Regions from separate parts of the Homo sapiens genome. Here region 2 is linked to region 1. The links come from fine-mapping of genetic effects on gene expression. A gene starts in region 1. The other region holds a variant in brackets. All regions are shown on one strand. Distances are from middle to middle.

Region 1 (5,384 bases):
CTCTGTGCAGAAGAAAATCACTTTCTTAAGACTGGGGCAACTTCTAGTTGAAGTCTGCTGTGACTAGGAAGTGTTCTATCCTGAGATCTGCTAGTCAGGGGACTAGCTTTCTTCTTCTCAACCTCGGACACTGGGATTCAGCCAGGGAATCAGCTGCAGAATCTCATTACTGCCAGCAGTTAAACACTGAATTGTACGTCCTTTCTAATGTTGAAAAAAAAATCCTTTTACTATAGAGAATAAGATTCCTACCAAGTTTTATATTCATAGGCTTTAATATTTCATGTAATTTTTATATCAAAATACATTAGCATAAATTTCACAAGATATCAGTCTAGTTATTTTTGGCCTGCATTTCGATAACTTTTACAGACACACAATGGCCACTCTGTTTTCTTTGCTCTAAAGTTTCTTTGTGCACTTATTCCTTGAACATGGGCCTCATGTTCTAACTTTACTTAGATGAAAAAACTGTTAATTTCACCAGTGGTTTAATATCTCTTCATAGATTGATAGTTTAGACAACATAAAAGTGTTGATTAGCAGTATACGTGCAGGCTGAAGTATTTGTTGAAAATCTTGTTGGGAGAATAAGAATGATAAAAGAGATGCCTAAGAAAATCTTTTCTCAGATATGCTTTACTAAACAAAGAACAGGTTAATTACTCAATGATGATTTTTAAAGGGCATGTCGACAGTGTCAGTGACTTTGAAACAAAGTAAAGGAGCTGAATTCAAGTGTGTGCCTGAGTTACTTAACTATCTTGAACTGATTTAGGATCTGTAGCTTTAATCTGGGGCTCCATCTACTAGTGGTTTAATAGAGTGGGTTTTATTAAAATTGTGATTTAATCAGAAGCCAGAAATATACAACTGTTTTAAACTTTTTGATATTAACCTGATATACACAGTGGGCTGATAAATTAGTGAGACAGTTCATATAAGTCATATATGAAAATCAGTCTGTTATTAGCCACAACTCATGTATTTTTCAAAACTTGGAGATAAATGTAAGCTTCATCTCAGAAGTCATATTACACGTTATAGGTTTAATATAATGAAATTTTTCCAGACTTAGAAAAGATATCAGGAAATTAACATTTGCAAGGCAATTTACAGTTTTCAAAGAGCTTTTCTCATTAATTATCTCAGAAAACTGAATAATGATGTGATTATTAAAGGTTAATTAAGCAAATACTTGTGAAGTAATTGGGAGGTAATCTATTTCTAATTTAACAGGTCAATCACGGGTATTTAGGAAATATTTTTGCTGGTTAACAACTCTAACCAAAACAAAAAGGTATTTAAATGGTTTCCCTAGTGAAAAACCATAAGCATGTGTTTCCTCTATTAAGTCAATTGTTTCAAAGAACTAGCATGAGAATTCCTAATTTCACCGTTTTGATGATTTAAGGTTTTATGAAGATTCTGAGCTCTTCCCTCCCGACGTTAATCCATGTCTTACATTGTTCATTTTGGCGCTTTAGAATAAAATATCTTTGGAAAGTAACTATGAGAAAGCACAGAGGGATATGTTAGTGAAATAGCCATTTTCTTGTGGGAAGCAAGACATTTCGGTTATCGACTACACAGAAGAGTGAATAAAACCCAACGCCTATCAACCACCAAACGTGACTCTGCTTGCATAATCATACAAATAAATTTTCTTTAAAAATTTTTCATGGGTGCAGTATATAAAATGATCAATAGTCTCATCAGCAGTGGAACTACAAACTGCTTTCTCCTAACTTTGTGTAGCCTGGGTGCTGCCTCACGATTACTAAGTGGTTTAAAATCATATCCCACTTGCTCCTTGGTTTATCAGCGAAAGACGTGATTCCCAGGTAGGAAAACGCCAAGTGTCCCGCAAAGGTACAGGTAAAACGTAGCAGTTACTGCGAGAAGACTGGCCCCGGGGAGTCCCAGGGCTCGGTCGGGGCCCCCGCACGAGCTGAGGAAGTGGACAGCGGGCACCTTTGTCTGTGCCTAGTTCCCTGGACCCGGGCCGAGCGATGCGGGTGGGGGCGCGGTTCGGGCGGGTCCCGGCGCTGCCCGGGGGAAGCGCGCGGCGACGGCGGCCCGGCTTGGGAGCCGGAGGTCAGCGGCTGCGCGGCCGGCCCCCTCCCACGGGAGCCGCGCCAGGGCCCAGCAAGAGTCGGGCGGGATCGCTATTGTTTTTGGCGAGCACATAAATCCCCGGGCCGACCCACTGCGCACCCAGGTTTCCTCCCGGAGGCCTTTCGGTTTCCTCTGAGGCCCTATATAGAGGCTCCAGGCCCGGACTGTGCAGAGGTGCGCGCCCACGCCGGCCTCCCGGACCAGCCTGAGCTCGGAGCGCCTCTCGCCCTCAGGTCTCTGCAGCCAGAGGCATCTGGGGAGGTGAGGGGGGAATTTGTCCCCGAGGCGAGGAGGAGGAGGCGGGGGCGCGCGGAGCCGAGGGGCTGCGGCGAGCGGGCGGGAGGAGCAGGAGGATCCGCTTCTCCGGGGTTTCCCTGACGCCAGCAGCAGCGCCCGGCGCGCGCGCCCCGCACCCGTCAGCGGCTCCGGGGAGAAGGGGGAGGGGAGCGGGCCCGCCACGGCCCGAGAGGCGGCAGCCGGGATTGGAGCGGGGGCGGGCCGCGCGCGGAGCCGAGGGGGTGCGGGCGAGGCGCGCGCGTGCGCGTGTGCGCGCCCGGGACTCCCGCCCCCCGCCCCCGCCCCCGCCCCCGCCGTCCGCGGTCTCCGCCCCCCTCGCGCTGGTGTGTGGAGCCGGAGTCGGCGGCGGGTGGCGGCGCCTGGAACCTGGAGACCGACCCACCGCCCCCCCCCCCCCGCCCCGGAATGTACTGACTCCCCTTCTTCGCTCTCCTCCCCTCCCCGCCCCCTTGCAGGAGGGAGGCGCCCTGGAGTCTCCCCTCCAGCGAGAGGGGCTGCGCGGGCCGGGCCGGGCCGGGCTGGGCTGGAGCAGCGGCGGCCGCGGGAGCCGAGCTTGCAGCGAGGGACCGGCTGAGGCGCGCGGGAGGGAAGGAGGCAAGGGCTCCGCGGCGCTGTCGCCGCCGCTGCCGCTCACTCTCGGGGAAGAGATGGCGGCGGAGCGGGGAGCCCGGCGACTCCTCAGCACCCCCTCCTTCTGGCTCTACTGCCTGCTGCTGCTCGGGCGCCGGGCGCCGGGCGCCGCGGCCGCCAGGAGCGGCTCCGCGCCGCAGTCCCCAGGTAAGCGGCGGGCGCGGGCCCGGGGGTTCGCGGGGGCGCGGCACCGGCTCAGGCGGCCGCGGCTGCGGTGTTTTTGTTTAGGATCCAGGAGGAAACGTGCAGGAACTTCTCTGCCTCGGCTCCGGTTGCCGAAGAGAAAGGGGATCGCGCGTGGTGGGGAGGAGAAGGGCGAGAGGGGGCGCCACCGGGGAAGGGGCGGCTGCCGGGGGGCAGGTCGGGGGCGCAGGGGTCTAGTTCCCAGCTTTGTACCTGGAGGCAGGTTCACCCCTCGCCTCTCTCCCCTCCCCCAGGCTCATCCCACTTGTAAGAGTGGGACATTCTTGTGCTCACACTAGCACCAGTAGAGGCCACTACACACCTCATTAAATAAACAATCAGACGGCCAATTCATTAATTTTCAGGAAAGGAAAGGGGAGGGGGCTTGAGCTCCTGGTTCCCTGGCCAGGGATTTCCCAGCTTCCGAAGTCTCGAGGAAGAGCTGGCTAGTCTCGAGGGACTCCTCGCGCGGGGATTGGAGCCCGAGTCTGCGGAAGAGCGGGGGTGTCAGAGGGGCACAATTGCCCGCTCACAACCCCTGGTGTTGATTTAACGATGAGGACGCCTTGGAGAGCGGCTCGGAGTGATCGTATCTGTTAGTGTTTCCGTTATGAAATGCCTCTTCTTTCCTGGGGATTACAACTATATTTACAGCCTATTAACCACTCTTAACCAAGGGAATTGTCTAAGCATCAGATTTTAGGTACTTGTACAATGTTTTCAGATGGCATTGTATAAACATTGAACCTCAAAAGCCATTTTCAGTTCTTTTTTGGAATATTATAGATTACTGAAACCACCTGCATTCCTATTAAGGGGACCAACGAACAAAAATGCCAAGCCTTCCGGGAAGGACCTTACGGTATTGTTGAGCAGGATACACTCAGCAGTTGAAAGGCAAATTAGCATGTAATCTGTTAAAATTATTTGACCAAGGTGGTGTACCATAAAACTTGACAAAACTTTCACTCGTGTGAGATATGATATTTTTACATTTGAAAGCAGTCTTACCGCTGAACCAGTACTTGTTTTTCCCTGATTTATATGAAATAATATTTAAAATCACACTGCAAGGTAACTTGACTGATAAACTTTTCATTTCCTTGCAGAGTGTGTATGTAGCTCATGGCTTTTGCCAATGTTAAAGAACAGCTTTAAACGTAAAGTACCACTCGGTATTCTCTAAACAGCTACGTAAACAATAGTGTTTTAATGTCAAATTAAACATCACTTATGTCATGATGTACCCTTATACATTCAGTCCGTATATGGTTTAGAACACATTTTGGTGCTGAAATGCAGGTTACTGATCCAACTGTCTCTTAGATGAGCAAGAGAAATATAACTATTTTGGAAAACAAGTTCCTGTTACTCATGATCTATTTTATATGGAAATTCATATGTAGTTCACCAAATTTCAAGTTTTTGTTTAAAGTTTTGCCGATAATTTTGTAAGTAACTAAAATGCTAGTAATTTTATTACTTAGGATAATAAAAATAATGCAAGCAGTCTCAGGAAGTGGTCTTAACATCTGTTTCAACATTAACTCAATTGACAGGTTTTTATTTTGCACAGATGAGGTGCAAGGCATATGCTCTCTGCCTTCATGGAGTTTACAGTCTGGTGTGTGGGTAGGAAAGATAGCCATCCATCTACTGATTATATAATTAAGTAATTGTGATAAGCACTACAAAGGAGAATAGGTTTTCACAAAGTGGGTACTGGAGTGACATAACCTAGTCTGGGTGTTAAGAGTGTCTCACAAGAACTGAGATCTGAGGAGTGGGTAGGAGTGGAGGTGGGGAGGCTCACAGGTAATTAGTCGTTTAATTGGGTCTAGAACATAGATCTCCTGATTCTCGGTCCAGAGTCCTTCCTGTAAACCGCTCTGCTTCATTACAAAAGCGAGAGGAATAACTGCAATAAGGAGGGGTTGGTCAGTTCTGCCATAAAACTGCGGAAGAGATCAAGAGACTGGAGAACTGAGTAAGCAGCAACTGGAACAAGCTGTCCGCAAATCAGATGTCCTTTGTCAGTAGTTTTATTTTTTTTATTTTTGTAGAGTGATAGACTTATAAATCTTTTTATAGGGGATTATAGTGAATAGATTGTAGGGAAGTGGACATGTTCAGTAGTAGAAGGTGGAGAAAAATAG
Region 2 (5,384 bases), 66 kb after region 1:
AAGAATATTTGTAAAATATGATAGCAGATTGCTTTTTAAGTCAGTCGGATGAATAAATTCTCTAGAAAATGGACAAAGTGTGTGTATAGTAAATTTATGAAAAAAATACAAATAACTGATAAACATAAAAAGATACCTCTTAAGAATCATTTTAATTTTCTGCCTCTTTTATGTTCAACAGAGAATTTCACTTTGAATGCAGTAACTTAAAGTATTTATAAATCTGATTCTAGGGTTTGAAATAAAACTTTTATTAGATACTCATGTCATTTAACAAGGCTTGTTTATCTCAGGTAGAAGGTTTTTTTTTCCCCTAATGTTCTTCTAAATGGCTCAAAGTTTGGTTTCCTACTTGAAAGTAAATCTTATTTATTAGACATTTGTAGTGAGATGACTATATTTATGTGTCACATTCAAAGAACAACAGTTAATAATTTTTGGACTTGTTAGTAATATATTTTCTGACAAATAATAGAAGAGAGATTTGCTTAACTTTGTTCTTTTTCTTTATTTTTGTAGGAGCCAGCATTCGAACGTTCACTCCATTTTATTTTCTGGTGGAGCCGGTGGATACACTCTCAGTTAGAGGCTCTTCTGTTATATTAAACTGTTCAGCATATTCTGAGCCTTCTCCAAAAATTGAATGGAAAAAAGATGGAACTTTTTTAAACTTAGTATCAGATGATCGACGCCAGCTTCTCCCGGATGGATCTTTATTTATCAGCAATGTGGTGCATTCCAAACACAATAAACCTGATGAAGGTTATTATCAGTGTGTGGCCACTGTTGAGAGTCTTGGAACTATTATCAGTAGAACAGCGAAGCTCATAGTAGCAGGTAAGTTTTAAGTGATTTTTTTTTTTGCATTTTCAAATATTTATAACATACATCTTGATAAAAGCACTGTTCTCTTGGAGTTTTCTTTTAATTAGTAGCAACAAATATACTCATTTAACAGATATCAATTGTGCATATACTCTGCGTATGGGACCTTGCTGTAGGGCTTGCTCAGTGCCGTAGAGAATAAACTGTAGCGTGTTTCCACTTGTCTGATGGCTTAATATTGCTATCAGAAGTACTGAGCAGTTCTTTTCTCCTTTTAAACTTGGAAGTGGCAGAGGAAGTGGTATAGGAAAATTAAATCACTTTGACGGCCAACTTCTATCTTACCCAGCATAACCATTTAGTATGGTTTTGTAAAACTTGCAGTAAAGTCAGAATCCTGGTTCCTTGATGCCTTAACCAAGGAAATGACATTCAATTGGATTAATTGTTTTAAAATCTACAGAGTGTATATTAAGGTGGAGAGCAGAAAGTTATAAAGAGAGGAACTTTCCCTCCTTTTCAGAGTATCCTTATTTGAAGAATGATGGAAAGTGTAAGAAAAATTAGGGATCTTGAAGAGTAAGATGTGGTTTCTAAGTAAGTCATGTCTGTTTTGTAGTAGATACTAGCGTTCCTGAGATAGTGTTTCTTTACTTGAGTACCAGATGAAATAGTTTTTGTGAAGGGTCATGTTATACAAAAATGTTATCTTTAAGTCCTGTATTTACTCTCACCTTGGTGAAACGCCCACGTGTGAGACAGAACCTCAGAGACAGTAGTCTCCCATCTCATTCCTACTCCAGGATTATGGTTTCCCATCTCATGCTCACTCCAGAGTATATTTGCTTATACATTCAGAGCATAATGGCTGGTTTTTTTCCTCTTTGGGGACAAATACTCAAAGTTGAATTTGGGTGTGACAAAGTTTCTGTAATTATTCCATAATCATAGATTGAGGATGGAAAAATAAAAGAAGAAAAAAATGGGTCCTTTTGCCAATTTCCCTTTTCTTTCCTTCCTTCTCTCCCTCCTTCCCTTCTACCCTCCCTTCCTTGCTTCCTTCTTTCCTCTTTTTATTTTTCTTCCTTTTCTTTTCTTTCTTCTCTCTCCCTTAAAAAATAATCTATTTGCCAGGCTTTCTCCAACATGTTTCATAAATAAATTAGTATAATGACTGCCTCTACAACGTCACTTAGGTCAGTGTCTGTTTATAATTTAAGTTCTTAAATATCTCTTATCTGGGCTTTATTCATGGGCTCCTTCCTCTCGGCTGTCCCCCCATATACTATCATCAAATCCAGTGAATTCTGCTTAGTAATTTCTCTGTACTTAATCCACTTTCTCCTTCCCGAGGCTACTCCCAGTCTTCCCTCACCACAGCCTTATAAGCATCTGCCTGCTACCTTATTCTTCCCCTCCTCCAGTCCAGTCTCCACCCTGTCTAGAGTACTCTTTCTCACCCTTCAGTGATCCTCCAGTAACACCATCAAGGTAACATCTAACTCTTAAATAACAGGCCTGTTGATTCCTTTTATGAGCTGTCCTCCACTTCTCCAACCTTATTTCTTAACATTTCACCCTGCCTCTGTCCCCACCCCCGTCCCCTACATCCACCATCACCCTCACCACAGTTTTAAGCACTGGCAGTACTGTTTTGTTTCCTTTCATTTATTCTCTGCCTTCCAGCCTTTGCTCATGGCATCCCCACTGCCTGTTAATTTTATCCTCCACCTTTTCCTCACTTTCTTCTCCTCTGCTAAGTTTGTCCATTCTTCCTCTTTGATACCTTCAGGAAGCATTTTTTTGACCCAGTATCTAAGCAAGCAGCACCGTAGAAGGTGATACATTCTGTGATGACTGCATACAGGGTTCTGTAGGAAAGTTATTTAAACCACTCTTGGCCCTAGGTATCAGGAGTAAATAGTGCCCAAG[C/T]TAAGGGATTAAATAAAAGTTCTTTTAAATAGTTGCATGGTATACATTGTCTAGATATACATACTGTGATTTATTTAAAGATTTCTTTATTGATGAACAATTAAATGGATTAAAATTGTTGGATGTTATAGGCAATACTATAGTGAACTGCCTTCTGCAAATCTTTATTTCTGTAAAACAGATTACTGGAATTGGGATTGCTGGATCATAGGATACACTGTGTGTGTGTGTGTGTGCGCGCAATTAAAAGGTACTAGTTTGTCAGTTCCTCAAAATGTTAACCATAGTGTTACCATATGACCTAGCAGTTCCACTTGTAGGTGTCCTGGGGTAGTTATGGGTTATGCAGAGTGACTGCAAGTGAGTACAAGATTTCTTCCCGGAATGATGAAAAGGTTCTGAAATTAGATTATGGTGATGATTACACAACTTTGTTCATATACTAAAAAATATTAAATTATGTACTTTAGATAGTGAACTTTATGGTATATAAATTACATCTCAATAAAACCTAAAAAAATTCTGCCAAATTGCCAATCTAAAAGACTTAGAGTTTTTTGGTTGCAAGCAGTAGAAACTGATTGTAGCCAAGTCAAGCAAGAAGGGAAGTTTTTGAAAGAACATTAAATAGGTAACTCATAGAATTAAGTATGAGAGGTCTTTTTCTCTGAGCTGTCTCATTTCTCCACAACCAAAATTTCTGTTTTTCTGCCTGGGCAGTATGCTGGCTGTGAGTATTTTGTGCCCAGAGGTGGGGTAATAGGGTGTTCTAAATACAGACATTGTTAATATCTTCTTGTCAACTCCGGGTCTTAACTCCCACTCTCCTTTTTCTCCTGCAGTTCTCCAGAGGCAGCAGGACAACCGGCTTCCTTCTTGGGAGCGCAGGAAGCTGCAGCGTTCCCTGCCTTGTTATGTCAGTTACTAGTCCTCCATCTGCTTTCCCTACTCAGAAATTTTTTGAAATCTCTTGTCTGCCAATTCTCCATATGTTTTTGTGAGCTTACATTTTAAAAATTATTAATTTTCATGAGACCTCAGGAGGAAGAATTTTTTGACTCTTTAAAAATACAACTGAGCTGGGCGCAGTGGCTTACGCCTATAATCCCAGCACTATAGGAGGCCAAGACGGGCGGATCACCTGAGGTCAGGAGTTTGAGACCAGCCTGACCAACATGGTGAAACCCCATCTCTACTAAAAATACAAAAATTAGCCAGTATGGTGGTGCCCGCCTGTAATCCCAGCTACTTGGGAGGCTGAGGCAGGAGAATTGTTTGAACCCTGGAGGCAGATGTTGCAGTGAGCCAAGATTGTGCCACTGCACTCCAGCATGGGTGACAGAGTGAGACTCTGTCTCATAAAAAAAATTAATTAATTAATTTAATTTAATTTAATTTAATTAAAATAGAACCATATTTTGGTTTTATTGATTAAGATTTCCTCCTTTCCCCAACTTGATCAAATTCTGTGTTTATCTTTGTTAATTCTTATCTTCTGATATTCTGGTTTCTTAAAAGTAGATTTTTGGTCAAATCTGGGGAGCTCAAGGTAAAAAAGCAGATTTTTTAGATAATTTTATCTTTATTTTTTTCCTTCAAAAATCCCCTTGAAATAAAAAAAAAATAAGAAAAAGAAAAAGTTTATTGCAGGGCTGTAAAACCTGTGTGATTTATGTTTGGACTAATTCACCATCATAAAACTAGAAAACCTGTAATCATTTCTCATGATTTGTTTGCTCTTCCTTAAAGAAACATATTGTTTTATTCTGAGCATAGCAATCACTTTTTAGATATTATAATAGCTAGTTAAGTGTTTATGCAATATACTATATATAAATTATTTATTTTAAGTACTTTTTTTTTTTTTAACAATCCTGTGAGGCCTGTTATTCTCATTTTACTTGTGAAGAAACTGAGTCTTAGGGAGTGGTTAAATAACTTGCCAACTTCAGACACCCATGAAGTGGTGGTGTTGGGATTCAGATTCAGATATGTGACTTGAAAACTGATGCTCTTAGCTGCTACATCCTGTGGCGTCTATATTTATGACGACATTTTTGGTTCACATTTTATTTTGAGATCATTTTAAACGTAGGGAGTAGGTGCAAGAATAGAACCAAGAAATCTCATATACCTTCACCTAGATTACCTGATTGTTAACATCTTATCGTATCTGCCTTAACCCCCCAAAAATGCATACATCCAAAGACATATTTTTTCGGAGCCAGTAAGAGTAAATTGCAGACAGGTTTTCCTGTAACTGCCACCTAAATACCTACGTGTATATTTCTTTGAAACAAGGACATTCTCCTAGATAACCACAGATGTCCATCAAAATTAGGAAATTAACCTTAATACAATACTACTGTTTAATTTAGATTTCACTGATTATCTCAATAATGTTCTTTATAGTAAAAACCAAAAGCAGAGTACCCGCCTGTCCTCCTCCCACACATACTCTTATTTCTGGCCCAAGATTACATATTTCACTTGGTGGCTGTGTCCTTTAAAACTCTTTAGATATAACTTGGTTTTTCCTTGCCTCATTTTGAGTTTGTTTGATTTCTCCCTGAATAGATTCAGATTCCTCATTTTTGGGAGAAATACCACAGAAGTAATGCTGTGTT

Evidence for each region. PIP is the estimated chance that this variant, and not a neighbour inherited with it, causes the effect. A credible set is the group of variants that fine-mapping cannot tell apart.
Region 2: its variant is the best candidate, but not a certain one, in a credible set for the expression of NEO1 in whole blood (INTERVAL, PIP 0.74).

The regions. Positions count from the first base shown.
Region 1 is chr15:73,049,614-73,054,997 of GRCh38, forward strand. NEO1 (neogenin 1) reads left to right here and starts at 2,850. Exons shown (of 29, transcript NM_002499.4): 1 at 2,850-3,192. The coding sequence starts at 3,063. RefSeq lists silencers at 1,970-2,019, 2,080-2,149, 2,240-2,559, 2,790-3,169.
Region 2 is chr15:73,116,021-73,121,404 of GRCh38, forward strand. NEO1 (neogenin 1) reads left to right here. Exons shown (of 29, transcript NM_002499.4): 2 at 520-837. Among named protein-coding and RNA genes, the nearest start is that of NEO1, 66 kb to the left of the region's middle. The variant C/T (reference allele first, on the strand shown) is at 2,758.